2 linked regions of the Homo sapiens genome follow. The protein of the gene in region 2 purifies or fractionates together with the protein of the main gene of each other region. This does not show direct contact. Each region holds a gene or a part of one and is shown on either strand. Other genes may lie near its edges. The genes, in order: ELAVL2 and ESRP1.

Evidence for each region.
Region 1: the proteins of ESRP1 (region 2) and ELAVL2 purify together in Homo sapiens (affinity purification with mass spectrometry; one large-scale study listed by BioGRID and IntAct). This does not show direct contact.

The regions. Positions count from the first base shown.
Region 1 is NC_000009.12:23,819,661-23,823,474, forward strand, and holds part of ELAVL2 (ELAV-like protein 2), read right to left. Parts: intron 3,473-3,814; exon of another isoform or gene 3,106-3,472; intron 2,896-3,105; exon of another isoform or gene 2,703-2,895; intron 2,161-2,702; exon of another isoform or gene 1,945-2,160; intron 1,650-1,944; exon of another isoform or gene 1,567-1,649; intron 1,497-1,566; exon of another isoform or gene 1,275-1,496; intron 1-1,274.
Region 2 is NC_000008.11:94,665,107-94,668,920, reverse strand, and holds part of ESRP1 (epithelial splicing regulatory protein 1), read right to left. Parts: intron 3,768-3,814; coding exon 3,725-3,767; intron 973-3,724; coding exon 671-972; intron 1-670. UniProt on the Homo sapiens protein: mRNA splicing factor that regulates the formation of epithelial cell-specific isoforms. Specifically regulates the expression of FGFR2-IIIb, an epithelial cell-specific isoform of FGFR2.

The sequences.
Region 1 (3,814 bases), on a different chromosome or scaffold from region 2:
CTCCCTGAAAGGTGGCAGCACAAAGTTACCCAAATAACAGGCAACAAGGGGCTGGTTTTAACCACACAAAAATAAAAATACTCTCTCAAAAAGGAAAATTACAAAGGAGGAATCACAGAAAATTTAATGTAACATGTTTCTTCATATTCTAATTTTTCCTACCCCATTCTGGCCTTTATCTTCCAGATGTTTTCTTCCTCTTCTTTCTCTCCCCATAGTTTGCAAGCGAACTTCCCGTAAGTATATCCTCCCCACAACCTTAAGTGTTGTTACCTTAGCATCCCTACAAACCTCCTATAAAGAAGGCCCCTACCACAAATGCAGTAACATTCGGGTCCACTCAGCAATACAGTCACCATTTATATATACCCAAAGGTTACTAAGACAAGGTAGATGCAGGACAGCTTTTCCACCCGCTCACCAAAATGGAAACTCCAGGTCAGCTTCCACAAGAAATGGGAAATTCAAGCGACTCTGGCGAAACGATTCTTGAGAAAACTCTTCAAGGGCAACAAAACAATATTTCAAACAAACAGATTTTACTTGAGGGAATGGGGACATTACACAGCAATTGATATTCGAATGGTTTTAAATGGACTGATTCGCCGTAAGTTTTGAGGCTGAGCTAAATTTTTATGAAGAATTATTAGGAATAGGGCCACTAGAAAATTAAGTTTTAAAAGCGCTTTTGTCCTTGCCGAAGGTATTACATTTTGGCACTTCTAAGAACCGTTCTTTGAGGGAGGGAATAAAGGAGAGTGGACAACTCGTAGCAAATCCTTTTCCCATGTTTTCAGAAAATGTAGAGACGATAGGACTTGAAAATCTTTGTCATAAAGATGGTCTTTAAAAATGCACACAATTCTAAATGACCATCTGGGCAGCTACAACTGCATGCTCATAGCTCGCATCTAGAGGCATGGTTTTACGCTCTGGCCCTGAAGGATAACAAGGAGGCTTTTAAGGAAATGCCGTGAGAAAGACTGCTGGCTAAGCATTGTCACGGCCACTGGAGGAGCACCTGCCAGTGAACCGACGCTGGCTCCCCCAGTCTCACCAGTGCACGCACACTAGTCCGTGCACCCCGGCCGCCGCTGGCAGGCCCTACCAGCCAAGCTGGAGGAGCAGCTGCCGCAACCACGGCAAGCGAACTGAAATCCCAGAGCCGGCCTCGCCCGGCAGAGCGCCCGCGCTTCCCGCGCAGCGCACGCCTCGCGCGCAAACCCGAGATGTGACCGCGAGCTGCGACCTCGCGCGGCTGCGACGGGCCTCACCTAACGCGCACGAGGGGATCATCATTGCTCCTGCCCTGGGCGCCCGCGGCCCTACACCACCTCCGCACACAACGCGGCCGGTGTTAAGTCTCCAAACGCCCCGAGAGCTCCAAGGACCGCGCGCGCGAAGGCGCCGTAGCAAGTGGGCACACACCAGACACCACCCCGGCGTGTTCCGCGGGAGAAGCCAGTGCACACATCCTCCCGCAAGGCGGGGTTGCCAGTGCAACACAGGAATCCTGCCCTTTTTCTAGAAAAGCCCCCTCCCCCACTTTCCCTCCAATACACTCACCTGCGTCTCAACAGTTTCCTTCTTGCGCTACACGCGGCCGCACCCGGGCACGTCCACGCCCGTGCACGCTGCCAGGCGCGACTGTCCCCGCTCGGCTCCCGCCGCCCCCAACCTGCTTGTGCCCACGGGAGGGGCGGTGCCACCTCCCGAGGCGCCCAATTCTCTCTACTCCCGCCGCAACGGGCTGAGCTCTAGGAACTTCGCGGGCACAACCTCCGCCGCCCCCACCAGTGTTCCCGCCCAGAGTTCGGACTAGGGCGCACCACCCCTACCCTGCTAGACGCAGCGGGGGCGCGCACAGACCTTAGCCTCGGCGTCCAAAATGGACCAGGGGCAAGGCGCGGACGCCGTCCCCGCCCCCACGCCCCCAGCACTTGCCTGCTGTGACTCGAAGCTGCAGCTACTACGGCTCGTGCCGCTGGCCGTCAGCACTGCCGCGGAGGAGTCGCTCGGGGCGAGCTCCGCGGAGAGGCGGTGGCGGCGGCGGCGGCGGGAAAGGGGACTGGAAGCCGGCGGAACCCCCGCCCCACCCGCGCCGCGCCGCGCCGCGCCGGCAACCGCCCTCCTCACCCGGCCGGCTACTGCCTCAGTGACGCCCAGGCGCCGCGGTCCCGCCGTTTGTAGCGGGGCGGGAAGGAGGGGCTTGCTTGGAAGAGCGCCAGGAGGCGGGGCCGGCGGCGAGTTCGCGGCGCCGCGGCCGCCGCCGGCGCGTGCCCTGCCCGACCGCCCTTCGGGTCCGTGCCGGCAGGGAGATGCCGGGCTTCAGCAGCTCAGCTCCGTCCCTCCGGACTTCCGAGTCTCACCAGGCTTCCCCGACAAGGTTTCTCTGGACTCGGTGGAGAGCGTTGAGCGCCCAGAGGAGGCTGATTCCAGGTGCAAGTTTGCAAATCCCGAGGCCCGGGGCGCTAACGGGGAGTCAGAGCAGCTAACGTGGGGGTTACTTTATGTGTTCATAAATGTATTTATAAATATATATAAGTATACACACATATGTGTGTCTCTTTTAAAAATTCTCTTTTTCCCCCTACTTCGCAGCCAAGGGGTCCTGTCCCTGGACAGAAAATAAAGGCTTAGCCCCCTGCTGCCCCTCCCTGCCTCTCTAGAGAGAACCTGACGTTTAAATAAGCCCAGAGTACCTGTGCGGGGTGCTGTACTCTGCTTCAAACGCAAAGTAGGAAATCCTGCACTCGACTATGCAAACGCTTGCCGCTAGCCGCATCCTTCTATCGCCCCCCAACTCAAGACCCGAAATGGCCAACTCTTCACCGAGGGGGCGTCCCATCGCTGCCTTGCCTTGGCCCGCCCCTTCGCCAAGCTCAATCCCTTTTCCCCAGAAAAACCTGTGCCTGTCCTCAGACCCGGCCCCACGGCTGGAAGTCAAAACCCACCCCGGAGCCACGCGGCTGGAGCACGTTTTTACACCTGCTCGGCCGCTTAATTACGAGAGCACCTGTAGTTGGGATTTTTTTCATTGCAAAGGCATCGATTTTAGCCCTTCTCCTAAAATACTACATTTAAAAAATCACCTGTCATACCTACCTGAAATTGTAGGAGGTAAGAGAAAGGAACCGAGCAGTGGGCGACCCAGTCGCCGCAAGAACGTGACCGAGGTTACAGCTTCAAGGGCATGATGCAGGTTTGATGCAGCAAGGTCCGCTAAGGGCGTCCAGCGCTCCCCGCCCCCATGCGACGGGCGGAGCGGGGTTGGGGGGAAGGGAGGGGACTCGTCTAACCCAGGGCGGGTGTGGGAGAGGCAAATTTGCCCTCTTGGGCGAAGTCTAATCAGCATAGTGAAGTAGGGGGCTCAACCAAGGTCAAAAGCGAGATAGGCCATCCCTTAATTTGTGCGACCCAGTCTGGGGACACCGGATACAGCTAACTGATTCTATATCAGCATTTCCGTGTCACCCCAAATCCGATTTGCAATTAAATGACCTTAATTGACTTTGTGTGGGTTCCTGGGAAAACTGCTCAAAGCGCCTGCGCCTCTTTGACCTCTCAGTAAATAGTTAATTATAATATTCTCATCCCAGGCACGCGGGATTGCTAAAAATGCCTATTTCCAAAACGTTAGGCGAAAATGGGCCTACTTAATTTGTCAATCCAAACCTAAAACTCTTAGAATGCCCTACGCCCTACTTCCTGACGCTGACTAAATTATGGGAGAGCTCTCAGAAGAGTTCCCCAAGTCTTCCAAACCACTTCTTCCTACAACCGTAGCGTTTTTTGTGAAGAGCTCCAGAACAGG
Region 2 (3,814 bases):
CTCAGAGGCTGAGGCAGGACAATTGCTTCAACTGGGGTAGGCGGAGGTTGCAGTGAGCAGAGATTGCGCCACTGCACTCCAGCCTGGGTGACAGAGCAAGACCCCATCTCAAACACACACACACACACACATGCTGAAAGCTAGTAAAACAGGACAGAGCTCACCAGCAGGGTATGAAACCGATGAAGCCTTTTGGGAAATAACATTTGGCAACACATTAAAAACCTTAAAAGCTCACACTCTATATCCAATGCTACAGAAATCAAATTGATGACAGGTTTTTAAGCATTTTACATAGAAATTTCTTCTGGTAGAAAAAAATCAATCTAAGTGTACACTAGAGGAATTTCTAGATAAAGTATGCACTTCCATGAGATATTTAAAGATGAAACTTTTCAGACATAGGTAAGCTTTCATAGTTTTAAAACAGAATACAAAAATCCAGCTATAGCAGTATCCCATTTCTGTAAAAATACGTAGTATGTGTTGTGTGTGTGTACAGGATAACAGCGGCTATCTCTTGGTTATAGAATCAAGACTATTTTCATGCAGTTACACTTTTAGTATTTTGCCAGTTTTATTTTAACATAATGAGCAATGTAGGACTATTTTCAGAGATAAAGAACAGAAATTAATGCAAAGGTACAACATACTTGTTTTTAAAACCAACCTGCTGAACTTCAGCTGCTGTGCTCCTGAAGAGTTCAATGTATCTTTTACCCAACAAGTCTTTATGCTTCCTCAACGCATTCTGTGCATATTCCTCACAGGCAAAGAGGACAAAAGCGTCCCCTGTTGGCCTACCATCTGGGTAGGTGACAAAGAGGATGCCTTCCTTTCCCCCAGTAATAGGGCAATGCTGTCCAAAGAAGGCCACCACTTCTTCAGCTGTGGCCGTGAAAGGGAGCCCCCGCATGCGGACAATGACTTGATTTTCCTTGGAGAGAAACTGGGCTACCTCATTGGAAGTACCTAGGGAAAACAAATATTAGGAAGCAGGGAGAGAAATAGTTAAGACATCAACTTTACCGATTTTAAAGTGATAAAAGTCCTGCCAATGTCTTGAGTTCATAATGAAGACCCATACTCCTACTGAACGCAAAATAACATCCTAGAAATCAGAATTTTCTAAATTTGAAACTCCTCCCCTTTTTCATAAAACATCCTTCTTAATTTAGGAAGCTGGCAAGACAATTAAATCACGGGCCAATCACTAGTAAGTCATTGTGGTAGTTAAAGGCACAGGTCCTGGAGCCAGAATGCCTGGGTCCAATCTTGGCTTTACTGCTTACTAGGGCATAATCTTAGTCAAGTTCAACTCCGTGCCTTACTTTTCTTGTCTGTAAGATTGCCTATGTCATAAATTATGAAAATTAAGTAGGGTAATAGATATAAAGCACTTTGGGTTAAAAAAATCTTTTCCTGATTACTCTTTTGCTCCCAAGAAAACCATCTGCAAGTAACTCAATTACCTTTTTTTTTTTTAATTAAGAAAGGTTCAAACATTCTTAGTAAAAAGAATAGTATAATGAATATATGGGGTACCTACTTTCAATATTGATCAACATTCTGCCCAACATAAAACATTTTGTACAGTGTTGTCATATAGCAAATACTTAAATGCATATCTTTGAAACTCATACACTAGTAACATTTTCCCTAATAGCACGTTCTTCTTTTTGCTTCTTTTTTGTTTTTTTTTTGAGACACAGTTTCACTCTGTCTCCTAGGCTGGAGTGCAGTGGCACGGTCTCGGCTCACTGCAAACACCGCCGCAGAGATTCAAGTTGATTCTCCTGCCTCGGCCTCCCAGAGTAGCTGGGATTACACACACACACACACACACACACACCCCTCTCCTGGCTAATTTGTGTATTATTAGTAGAGATGGGGTTTCACCATATTGGCCAGGCTGGCCTCGAACTCTTGACCACAAGTGATCCGCCTGCCTTGGCCTTCCAAAGTGCTGGCATTAAAGGCATGAGCCACCAAGCCCAGCCCCTAATAGCAAATTCTTATCGCAGTGCCCATATACAATGAAATCCCAGAAATGATATAAACAATTGACTTTGCCATCTCCAAGTTGCAATGCATCTATCATGAAATGTCAGGATTTAGGTAAAACCACAGCAACCCCAAATATATTTGACCCCTAACAATATCAAACATTGCTTGGGAACTCTGGAAATGCTCCTAAATTTGAAGTCCTGAATTTTGAAGCCTTAGAGTTTATCTAAAGATGAACTGGAGCAAAAATATACCAGCAGATTGTGTTAATAGGATGCTGTTCCGGTAAGTTCTATAGCTGCAAAATTTTCACCCAGGCTCTGTAATGTAGGAATACAAATGTTCTTTTACACAGTGAAAGTCATCTTCATATAATTTGGCAATAGGTGTCAAATGGCTGTTGAAAAGGTCCAAAATTCTTTGATTCAGCTATCCTGCTTTTAGAGATTTATCCCAATGAGTGGCGCATACAGAGATTTTAAAATATTGACAACATATTAAAGTCAAAAGTTGGAAATGAGTTCTAAATGCTCAACAGGGATATTTTATTTATTACAGACAGAATCTCACTATGTTGCTCAGGCCATTCTCAAAATACACCAAGGCTCAAGCAATCCTCCCTGTCTCAGCCTCCCAAGTAGCTGGAATTACAGGCACAAGCCATGTGCCCAGCTCCAACAGAGATGTTTCAAAATATTATGGTACATATAATACTATGTAGCAATTAACATTTAAGAAAATTGAGTAATGTAGGATGATGTTAATATACATTAAAAGGAAATTATAAAACAATATGAATGAGCAACAGAAACTTACAAAGTAGATATATATATAGAAAAAAATCAGACAAAAAGCAGTCAACGTTTTATGCATGTTACTTCCTTTAAAGTTATTAATCACTAAATAACTGGATAAAAACCACATCTGTTCCACCCTGTTTTTAACCATATTACTGTAAATACACATCCAAAAATACTACGAGACCCAAAACTACCATGTTTCTGGTGACTCATGTGTTAAGTTTAGAGAAAAATTAGAAGCACATGTGCAACAATCCCAGGTATTGCAGCGTGGCCGTTTGAAAGCAGTTTTCTGACTCTTTTCAAGAATATCATTTCCTGGCCGGGCACAGGGGCTCAGGCCTGTAATCCCAGCACTTTGGGAGGCTGAGGCAGGAGGATCAATTTGAAGCCAGGGGTTCCAGACCAGCTTGGCCAACATGGTGAAACCCCATCTCTATTAAAAATACAAAAAGTTAGCCAGGCATGGTGGCACACACCTGTAAACCCAGCCACTACGGAGGCGGAGGCACAAGAATTGCTTGAGCCTGGGAGGCAGAGGTCGCAACGAGCTGAGATTGTGCCACCGCACTCCAGTTTGGGTGACAGAGCGAAACTCTGTCTCCAAAAAAACAAAACAAAAAAACCTAGCCTTTCCATATGCATACAACTTCATATCACCTTTTCACCTTTGTATAGTACTATTTTTAATGGCTATTTAACTATAGTAAGTTGGCTCAAGCCTTAGGACAAGTGTTATACATTAAGCTCACTGTTATTATCGGAAGCTTCTACCTCTGGGGAAGAAAATCTATTCCCATGTTCCATTAGAAAATAAAAACCATTCATGACCCTATTCACCTACTCTTGCTAAATTTAAGTATGCAAAATTTTTAGATTCTTATTAACTAAAGCCACATTATGTAAAAGGCACTTACCACCAGCAATTTTAAGGAAATCTTCACCTGTTGCTTTGTAAACCTGAGAAAAGACAGAGAAGTTAGTGTTTCTGAGCCTTCCGTCCTATG